Linked DNA regions of Homo sapiens: region 1 is linked to region 2. Evidence: fine-mapped expression QTL. A gene starts in region 2. The other region holds a variant in brackets. All regions are shown on one strand. Distances are from middle to middle. Region 1 overlaps GALNTL5 (polypeptide N-acetylgalactosaminyltransferase like 5). Region 2 holds the start of GALNTL5 (polypeptide N-acetylgalactosaminyltransferase like 5).

The links. PIP is the estimated chance that this variant, and not a neighbour inherited with it, causes the effect.
Region 1: its variant is the best candidate, but not a certain one, in a credible set for the expression of GALNTL5 in caudate (GTEx, PIP 0.61).

Annotation. Positions count from the first base shown.
Region 1 is chr7:152,004,743-152,010,122 of GRCh38, reverse strand. GALNTL5 (polypeptide N-acetylgalactosaminyltransferase like 5) reads right to left here. Exons shown (of 9, transcript NM_145292.4): 7 at 2,179-2,296. Among named protein-coding and RNA genes, the nearest start is that of GALNT11, 18 kb to the left of the region's middle. The variant G/A (reference allele first, on the strand shown) is at 2,631.
Region 2 is chr7:151,953,813-151,959,192 of GRCh38, reverse strand. It overlaps GALNTL5 (polypeptide N-acetylgalactosaminyltransferase like 5), which reads right to left and starts at 2,747. Exons shown (of 9, transcript NM_145292.4): 1 at 2,584-2,747. It overlaps LOC105375570 (a long non-coding RNA gene), which reads left to right and starts at 4,271. Exons shown (of 3, transcript XR_007060597.1): 1 at 4,271-4,808. It overlaps LOC105375571 (a long non-coding RNA gene), which reads left to right and starts at 2,848. Exons shown (of 2, transcript XR_928179.2): 1 at 2,848-2,942; 2 at 3,488-3,994.

The DNA.
Region 1 (5,380 bases), 51 kb before region 2:
AAAGAAGCCACTTTCGTATTGTGTGCCACTGTATTTTAGCACCCAGCACAGTGCTTCATACATAACAGTACTCAATACATATTGTTGCATGGATGAATTAATGAAGACTGTGTCTTCTTCTCAATGCTCAGCATACAGCACAGTTTGACTTAAAGGAAGTGCTCCTTAAATGATGGCTAGATTGAGCTTAAATATTACTCTCAAGAGATAGTCCTAAACTGAAACTATAGAGTTGGATATTATCGTGATACAGGTATTAGTTACAGCCATGGGGACTGATGCAAGTATCCTACTAAAAATATCAACAAGGGTGTGGCACAGACCCTCGGCGATCAGAGTAGACTTGCCCTGCCAAGTGCTATTCCCTTAGTTACTGGAACATGGGAAGGTCCAGGGAGCGTAGACCTATGGTTGGGCTGCAGGTGGAAGGTATTTGGTTGGCTCAGAGTAGAGGTTTTTTCACACCAGATGCAGAAAGACTGCATTATGTTAACAACCAGTGTGGCTTCACAGGAGCAGAGGACCTGGATGCTAGCCCTGAGCCCTGAAGAGCACATGGGGTAAGAAGCAAAGTCTGACAAGGATGGAAACCTTGGGGACACCTGTGTCTAAGAGATGAGCCACAGCAGAAATTCCTACAAAGGAAACTGAGAACAACTGAGCAATGGAAGGCAAACCAGGAATATTGTCCTAACGTCCAAGAAAACTTCCAGAAAAGACAGTTTAGTGTCAGATGCTGCAATGACCTCAGATAGATGGAAGATCAAAAGCCATCCATTAAGGACATCACTACAAAACTGGTGGCAGTTCCTGGAACGATGTCACGGAAAGCTGAGGGCCTTCCAGGATATCGATTTACTGGAATGAGGAGTAAACGAGAAATGAAGAGGTGTATGCAGGTGCAGAGATCATTCTTTTCTCAGGAAAGACAAGGTTACTTGTCGTGGTTAGAGACAGCTGCCAGTGTCAAGAGAATATTTCAGCTACTTATTAATTTACATACTTCTTTATAAAAAGACACCCAAGTATATTTAAAAGATATGACAGGCCATCAGGAAAGGCGCCATTGAAATATTGGAGTAGGAATAATTAATGTTTGAATAATAAATTAGTTGTCATTTGCTATCTATAGGGAATGTAGGGCCAGAAAAAGGAATATACTGACTCTCCAACTCTGCCTGTATAATACACAAAACTGATCACAGTTATTAGATCCTGAAAGGAGGTGAACTCCTTGAGCCATTTTCTTAGAGTGCAATATAATAAAACAAGGAATAATCAACTAAACAGAATAAAATGCGCCAAAGGCATGAGCGTTATAAAATAATGCCTACGTCCAAAGGGAACATGAGAATGAAAAAAACAAAGCAAGCAAACAAACAAACAAACAAACAACAAAAACAACAAGCTTAAGAGGGACCATCAGATAGAGGCTTGGAGGAAACTATATTGTTCTAGATATTTTTATATGCATAATCAAGTATCTGAAGCATTATGAAAGAAGTCTGCTTGGGAACTTTAAAAGTGAACAAATAACTGGCCAAAAGAAGGAAGGAAAAGAGAGAGAAAATAAAATCCAAAACAGAAAAAATTGGAAAAAACACAACTACTGAGACAATAAAGACAATAGATTTAAAATATTATATTAATTTGATATACCATACATCAGAAATAACAAAACATATGGTATAAGAACCAAATATTTTTAAATTAAATTAAATATATTTATTTTAAGAAGTAGAGTCTAGGCACAGTAGCTCACACCTGTAATCTCAGTGCTTTGGGAGGCCGAGATGGGAGGATTACTTGAGCTCAGGAGTTCAAGACCACCCTGGGCAACATAGCGAGACCACATCTCATAAAAAAAAAAAGTAGAGATGGGGGTCTTGCTATGTTGCTGAGGCTGGTCTTGAACTCCTGGCTTCAAACAATCCACTTGCCTCAGCCTCCCAAAGTGCTGAGATTACAGGCATGAGCCACCACACCAGGCCAAGAATCTAATATTTTATTAAATGTTTTCCATTTTTACAAGGAGCCCCATAAATTGTTTATTGCATGTGCTGCTGGAATGGTACTGGATGTTCATGTAGGAAAATTGAGCATAATTACCACAGCATTGTATGTGACAAAGTTAGGTTTCACTCTCTATAGCTATTTTAAAAATGAAATCTGAATTACCCTTAGTGAAAGTTCCAAATTTTCTCTTCCCCAAAAATCCATATCCTTGTCATACTGTCCAATTTCATTAAAATAATGCCGACGTATAGCAAAAATTCCTCCAGACATTGCAGGTGACCTAGAAAGGGGACATAAATATGAAATTAATTTCACAGAGAAAGTCATTCTGTAGTTTCCTCAAAATTATATTAAATTAGTAATAACTTATAGTTTAAAATGAGAAAACAGGCCGGGTGTGGAGGCTCATGCCTGTAATCCCAGCACTTTGGGAGGCCGAGGCGGGTGCATTACGAGTTCAGGAGATCGAGACCATCCTGGCTAACACAGTGAAACCCCGTCTCTACTAAAAATACAAAAAATTAGCCAGGCAAGGTGGCATGCGCCTGTAGTCCCAGCTACTCGGGAGGCTGAGGCAGGAGAATCGCTTGTACCTGGGAGGCAGAGGTTGCAGT[G/A]AGCTGAGATCGTGCCACAGCACTCCAGCCTGGGACGACAGAGCCAGACTCTGTCTCAAAAAAAAAAAAAAAAAAAAAAGAGAAAACATTAATACTAAAATTATCCTATTATACATTTAAGTATATAAAATTACTAAAAACCACAACAAAAGTAGGCAATAACTTTTACTTAGTTCTCACCAAAATGTGTATGCGATATATTCTAAATGTTTTCCTAATGAGAAGGAAAATGATATTTGGAATGTAAGTTTCCCATGAGGATGACAATTGAACTGGGTAGCAGGGCTCAGAGCTCTCCCTTTCTAAAGACATTAGGTGAATTGTAATATTTACTTCTGGACAAACCATAATATTAAGAAGCATCTTGTTTTGTCCACCAATAGTAGGGCCAAATAATACCAAACTAAGTAGTTTGAAAATAGTCACAGCTGGGTGTGGTGGCTCACACCTGTAATCCCAACACTTGGGAGGCTGAGGCTGGTGGATCATTTGAGGTCAGGAGTTCAAGACCAGCCTGGCCAACATGGTGAAACCCCATCTCTACGAAAAATACAAAAATTAGCCAGATGCAGTTGCCCGCGCCTGTAATCCCAGCTACCCAGGACACTGTGGCATGAGAATCGCTTGAACCTGGGAGGCTGCAGTGAGCTGAGATCGCACCACTGCACTCCAGCCTGGGCAACAGAGTGAGAATCTGTCCCGCCCCCCCCAAAAAAAAGAAAAAGAAAAATAATCACAAGTTTACATTCATTTGTTCAAATAAGTATTTATTGAGCACCTATGTTTTAGGGATATGAGTCACTCAACACACAAACCAAGACCCATGTGTAGGGGAAAGGGTAGGGAAGCCAATTAGAGGGGCTGCAGAGAAAAATAATGGGATCCGGGATAAGAATGCAGCAATGTAGGTAGTAAGATGCGGTTGAATTCCTGGCATATTTTGGAGATGGAGCTAACAGATTTGCTTATGGGTCGGGTGTGGGGTGCCTACTGCACCAGATGTGACACACATTGCCGAGTGCACCAGATAGGAACATTCCTATCAGAATCCAGTCATGCTGTTATCTCTGCCAATTACAAAATTAAAACCGCCTTATTTTGACCCCACTTCCTGTCAGTTATGTCCCCTTTTCTCTCTTTCGTATTAAAGCCTTAGAAAGATTTGTCCATCACTATCTCTAATTCCCTTAAACTCCCTTCCATCAGGCTTCGCCTCCCGCCATTCACAATTAAGACTTGTTCATGACCTTCTCATGGTTTAGTCCAATGCTCATTTCCAGTCCTTCTCTCGCTGATCCAGCCACTGTGTTGGATGCTGCTGGCCACACCCTTCTCTTGGACACACATGCCTCCCTGGGCCTCCAGGGAACCAGATTTCCTGGTCCTTCTCCTCCCTCCCTGGTTGCTCCTTCCCATCTCCTTTGCCAGTTCCTCTCCTCCTCTCAACTGTCAATGTTGAAGCACCCAGGGCTCAGGGCTGGTCCTCTACACTTCTCCACTCACCCACATAGTGATTCTCATCCATCCTATCCATGACTCCCAAAGGATGCCTCCAGCCCTGACCTCTCTCAAAACTCCAGACTCATGATTGAATCCATATAGGATTGTGTTCAGTACCAGAGAATCAAAGAGTTATAGATGATATGAAGATAAATGTCATATCATGTTATAGATTGAGTCCTAAGTAATTCTATTGACAATAATTCTATTACTGTATTAAAGACTTCTAGAAGCAAGTAACAGAACAATTTGATTAAGCCTAAGAACTTGAAAGAATAATCTCTGGAGGCTTTTTCCCCCTGGGTCTCAATATACATATTCTATATTTTTCCAAAACCAGAAGAAATCTCACCAGATTGGTTTAGTAGGTCCTTCTGGCCCATCCATCTCATAAGGGACTCATGTATCCAACTGCATCCAACTACCTACTTCACATCCCCACTTGAATGCCAAATAGACATCTCAAATATGCCCCAAAGAGAATCTTCCTGCCAAAAACCTGCTCCACTCATGGTATTTCTCATCTCAGGGCACTGCAGTTCCGTCCATTTGGTGTGCAGGCCGAAAACGTTGGAGTCAGCTGTGGTCTGAGACAGCAGGGAGAAAGTGAAAGGGCCTTGCTCTGCCCTTAGAAAAGGGCAGGTGGCTGGGGGAAAAGGGCATGATCCTTGGTCATGGTGATGCCTGCATGTCAGGGAGCTGGGGAGGTCTTGAGTTATCATTGGCTTAAGCCCTAGGCATGATTTTGCTTTTTGTGTGTGTGTGTGTTAAGTTTTCCAAAACTCATTGCACCTAGCTTTTTTGGTCGTCATTAGAACTAAGGGAAAAATGTATCTTCAGATATGAATGCTAATTAATACCATGACTAATATGTAACAGATGCTGGCGAGGATGAGGAGAAAAGGGAACGCTTGCACAGTGTTGGTAGGAATGTAAATTAGTACAACCGCTGTGGAAAACAATACAGAGATTTCTCAACGAACTAAAAGTAGAACTACCATTGAATCCAGCATTCTCACTATTGGGTATCTTCCTAAAGGGAAAGAAATCATCTGTGTCAAAAAGATACCTGCCATTGTATGTTTATCACAGCACTATTCACAACTGTAAAGTCATGGGATCAACTAAAGTGTCCCTCAGTGGAAGACTGGATAAAGAAAATGTGGTATATATACACAATGGAATACTATTCAGCCATAAAAAAGAATAAAATGATGTCTTTGGCTGCAACATGGATGGAACTGGAGGCC
Region 2 (5,380 bases):
CATGCACTAATATGATAGTGATAGCAACAGGAGACAGACAAATTCCTAGGCAGAGAGGGGCAGGTCCCCAGTGAAATCCAACCTTCAAGCCAAAGACAGCTTAAAGCCTGAAAACTGAGTTGCCAGAGTCCACGACCGGAGTGAGAACTTCCTCAATGCCTTGTAGCCAATCAAATGGTGTTATTTCCAGGCCCACCTGGAAGGACTGGTGCTCTTTCCAGCATGTACTTCCCCATTCTGAGCCCATGAAAACCCCAGACTCAGCCCCATGTTGGGACTATCCATCTTTGAGCCCCCTCTCACACAGAGGGCTACCCACTTTGGATCCCCTCTTGTGTCAAGAGCTGTTCTGTTGCTCAATAAAACCCTTCTCTGCCTTGCTGACTCTCCAGTGTCTGTGTAACCTCATTCTTCTTGGACGCAGGACAAGGACCTGGGACCCACCGAATGATGGGTGCAAAAGGAGCTGTAACACTGTAACCTTCCCACCTTCTGCCAGTGCCAGATGGCCACCCCACATCATGGGAAGTGGTGGTAGGGCTGGGCCAGCCTAGGAGCACCAGTGGGCTGGAGCAGGATGGTGGGACAGAATGAGCTGTAGCACAAATGAGCTGCAACACACCCCTTGCACTGTTTGCCGCAACCAAACAAGCCATAACACACCCCCCTCCCCAACCCCGTTTCACTATGCTGCAGGTGGCAGGAAGGAGACAGAGAGCTGTAACAGTCCTTGGGGGCTCAGACCTTGGGACTCCCCAGGTGAGAGCTGTAACACCCCTTGGGGCTCTGTGGCGGTTGGCATCTCTGAGTTTTCAGGCACCACCATGTTCCCCCTCATCCAGATGCTGGTGCCCAAGGTGGAAGATGGTTGTGGCACACTCAGACCAGCCATGGGCTAAGCACAGAGTGGTGTGTGTGTGCAGAATCTAGGTCGGTAGTGCCAGCCGAGTGCAGCCTGCTGCGTCCAGTGGGGAGAGCAAGCCCAGAGGTGAGCCTAGAGCCAAGTGAGGCCCAAGGACGGGTGCTGCCAGCCGGGAAATGTCCAGCTGGCAAAGTGACATTGAAAGAATCCTGTCTCAATAGGATTATTACTGAAAAATAAATTATTCTCTAGAAAGATTCTAATACATCAGGAAAACTTGGGGGGAATTCTCTTTAGACGTGAACACTTATGAACATATCCCCAACCTCCTTAATTTTCTTATTTTACTAATATGAGTTCTTATATTATGTTTTCTCTGTGACAAGCACCTCACCTCCCAACCCACCCCCTATACTCCCACAAAACACAGAAAACCCCTCCTATCAAGAGATCGATGTAAGAGGTGTGTGATTGGCCTTTGGACTTTGTGTCTTCAGAAGAAAACCATGTTCAGTTATTTTCTTCACTAAAAGATGCAGAATTCAATGCTAGAAAAGCACAGAATTTGTAAAATATATTTCAACGAGGATTCATATGTACAGCAAATAAAATTTTAAGTGCATTAAAGAGACTTAGCAGATGATCAAAAGAATCCTGTAGAGAAAAGAATGCAGCTAATAGTCACCAACATGCCCCCACCAACACGCCAAAACCCTAGCCTAAATCTGCATTTACAGTCATTGAGTTTCTTTCTTTTTTTTTTTCTTTTCTTTTTTTTTTTTGAGACAGGGTCTCGCTCTGCTGCCCAGGTTGGGGTGCAGTGGCCCAATTACAGCTCACTGCAGCCTTGACTTCCCAGGCTCAAATGATCCTCCTCTTTCAGCCTCCCAAGTAGCTGGTACTACAGGCTGGTGAGTGCCACCACGCCTGTTTTTTTTTTTTTTTTTTAAATAGAGATGAGGTCTTGCTATGTTGCCCAGGCTGGTCTCAAACTCCTGAGCTCAAGTGATCCTTCTGCCTTGGCCCCCAAAAGTGCTGGGATTACAGGCATGAGCTACCATGCCTGGCCAAGTTTTTAAAAAAATACGAGTCTATTGAATCAGGAAAACATGACCATGCTTTAGATAATATCACAACTAATTCTTCTGTCAATAATCAACACTTTTTTTCCTTTTTTTTTTTTTTTTTCTCGAGACAGAGTCTCACTCTTTCATCCAAGCTGATCTTGAACTCCTGGACTCACATGGTCCTGCCACCTTAGCCTCCCAGGAGCTGGAATTACAGATGCCAGCTGCCGTGCCCAGTTTATAATCAGCATTTTTAACCCCTAGCTTTCCTAGGACCATCTTAATACTGATCTCCATATAAGATCTAGGACTTTATGACACTGCTAAGGGCCTTTATTTCCCTATTTTTTTCAAATAAGTAATACAGTCACTGTATAAACATTACCAGCATAAAGACACATGTAATGAAAAGTTTCCCTATTTTTCATGAACTAAAGCCATTACAATGCCCAGTCCACGTTTAGGGTGGTGTAACCAGCTAGGAGGCTACTCCTTCTTTAAAAAATAAAATAAATCTTCTTAAACCTAATCCCCAGAGCTAGCACCTCCTTCAAGACGCAGTGATTTGATGTACTGCTTCCGCTGATTCAAAGTGAAAGACGTTTCCCCCCATCTTTGTTCCCACTTCTAGCACATGGGGCTCACTTCACCTACCCTTGAGATAATTGCATTGGCTGCTTTGTAACTGATGAATTTTCCAAGCAGAGTCACAGCTGAATGAGGCAGGGGTCTGTGCCGAATGAACTGAGAGATGTAAAATTTTTTTTAGCTAGCAGGCTTTATGGTGGCTGGGTTCCAAGCAGATACCTGGTTGTGCTGGGTTGCGGGGCCACACAGTAGTACTCAAAGGGCAGTACAGTCCCCCTCACAAAGCCTGATGACATCACACAGGGCGTCACAGCCCCACAGGGGCCCCTGCCTGTAAGCTCCAACCAGCAGGTGGAATCCAGGAGTTCCAAGGTCCTAAGGGTCCTTACCCCTCAGCTGAGAAAATAGGGAAAGCCTCATATTAGGTGAGGCTAGAATCCAGGGTGACTCTCTTCTCTAGGCAAGGCCTAATTTTTAGCTTTTTATATTTATTTATTTATTTATTTATTTATTTATTTATTTATTTATTTATTTATTTTTGAGATGGAGTCTCGCTCTGTCCCCCAGGATGGAGTGCAGTGGTGCAATCTCTGCAATCTCTGCGATCTCCGCTCACTGCAAGCTCCGCCTCCCGGGTTCACGCCATTCTCCTGTCTCAGCCTCCGGAGTAGCTGGGACTACAGGCGCCCACCACCACGCCCGGCTAATTTTTTGTATTTTTAATAGAGATGGGGTTTCACCGTGTTAGCCAGGATGGTCTCCATCTCCGGACCTCGTGATCGGCCCGACTCGGCCTCCCAAAGTGCTGGGATTACAGGCGTGAGCCACCGCGCCCGGCTAATTTTTAGCATTTTTGAAATAAACTTAAGAAAAAGAACAAGCTTTCAGAAAACATGAAGAAACTTAAAGATGAGCCAAAGGGTTATTTGATTGCCTTTTAATTCTTTACTCTACGTTACTCAACATTTAGATGTCAGTACACAAGTTCAGCCAAATGCTTGTGAAATTTCTTCTGAACGCATCCCAGGAGACTTGACCCTCCCCGCTTCAGGATGCTGACTCTGTTTTGCCTGAAACCAGACAAGCTCTGCTTCAGGGTCTGTGAGTGGAAGGGGGTGGGTGGGAACCTCTCGCAACCTCTCCTGGGACAGACACAATGGGCAATCGTGACCTCCTGGGGTAGATACTGAAACTGTGACAAGTGATAACAAAACTGGCAGAAATCAGTTGGACCCAATATGGCCAACTGGAGTTTCTGCAGAAAGAGCTTGCTGATATCACAGCCTGAATTTCCACGCATGTTTCGTATTAACTGCCCCGGAATTTGATTTGCACACAGCACCCATGAGGAAGCATGAAGAGATAACTGCGCATGTCTGAGGACTTGCCAGACCTCCTCTTTCCTTCCACCGATCTCCTGCTAATCCCGGAACCCACCCTCTAACCCTTTTCTAATAAAATTATTTCCTTAAAGGCAGCACAGCGAGACAGATTTGAGCTGGACTCCTGTCTCCGTGTTGGTCAATTTGCAATGAAAAGCTTTTCTTTTCTCTGAAACCCAGTGTCTTAGTATTTATTGGCTTCTAGCGCACGGGTCAGTGACCTCTTTTGCTCGGTAACAACATAATGGGCTATAATGACCTCCTGGGGCAGACGGACGGGCATTAATGACGTCCAAGCCAAACTCATGAGTCTCCTTTCTGCAGGCTCGATGGGAAGGTCCTTCTTGCCCATTAATAATATAAAAGTAAGCTTTTATTCATATTAGCCTCAAACTGGAAAAAACCCAAATGTCCATCTGTAGTAGAATGGACCCACTGTGGCATATTCATATAATGCAATGCAAACCAGCAGTGAAAAAGACCAGACTGCAGCTGCATACAACATGGATGCATCTCGCAGACATGGCGTGAGACCGAAGCAGCTCATGGGAGAGCGCGATTCTATTTCTGTGAAGTTTCTGCAGAACGAGGGCTTGCTGAGGTCACAACCCAAATTCCTACAGCATGTGGAAGGGAGCAAGAAAAGGCAAAGCTACTCTAAAGTGATAGAACAGTTTATCTATCTATCAGTAACAAGTAGCTGTGTTTGGGAGCCAGAACAGGATTGCTGGTTACTGAGAGGGAGCAAGAGAGAGCCTTTTGGAGTGCTGGAATGTTCTGGGTCTTCTTGATCTGGGGGAGTGAAGGCTTCACGGAGCCTACTTGTACAAACGTGCATTGGGCTGGTCACTGAAAGTGTATATACTTCACTGTATGTATGTCGTATCCTCAAAACACGAGGGAAAAAAAGTGAGTCAACACAACTTTTGGACAAAGATTTTATTGTGGGAGTTTTGCAACCATTACACAGTTTGCTTGGTGTAATAAAGTAAAATCTTTCTTTCTGAGAAAGGTGCACATATACCGTATTCAAGGACAATAGTTCAAATTGTGTTTATTTATTTATATTTTTATTTATATATTTGAGACAGAGTCTTGCTCTGTTGCCCAGGCTGGATCACACCACTGCTGGTGTGATCATGGCTCACTGCAGCCTTGACCTCTCAGGCTGAAGCAATCTTCCTGCCTCAACCTCTTAAGTGGCTGGGACTGCAGGAATGTGCCACCACACCCAGCTAATTTTTTTATTTTATATTAGTTTTCGTAAAGGCAAGACCTCGCTATGTTGCTCAGGCTGGTCTCGAATTCCTGGGCTCAAGCTATCCTCCCACCTTGGCCTCCCAAAGTGCTGCAATTACAGGCATGATCTACTGTGCCCGAACTTTTTTTGAGACAGAGTCTCACTCTGTCGCCCAGGCTGGAGTGCAGGGGCAAGATCTCAGTTCACTGCAAGCTCCGCCTCCCGGGTTCTTGCCATTCTC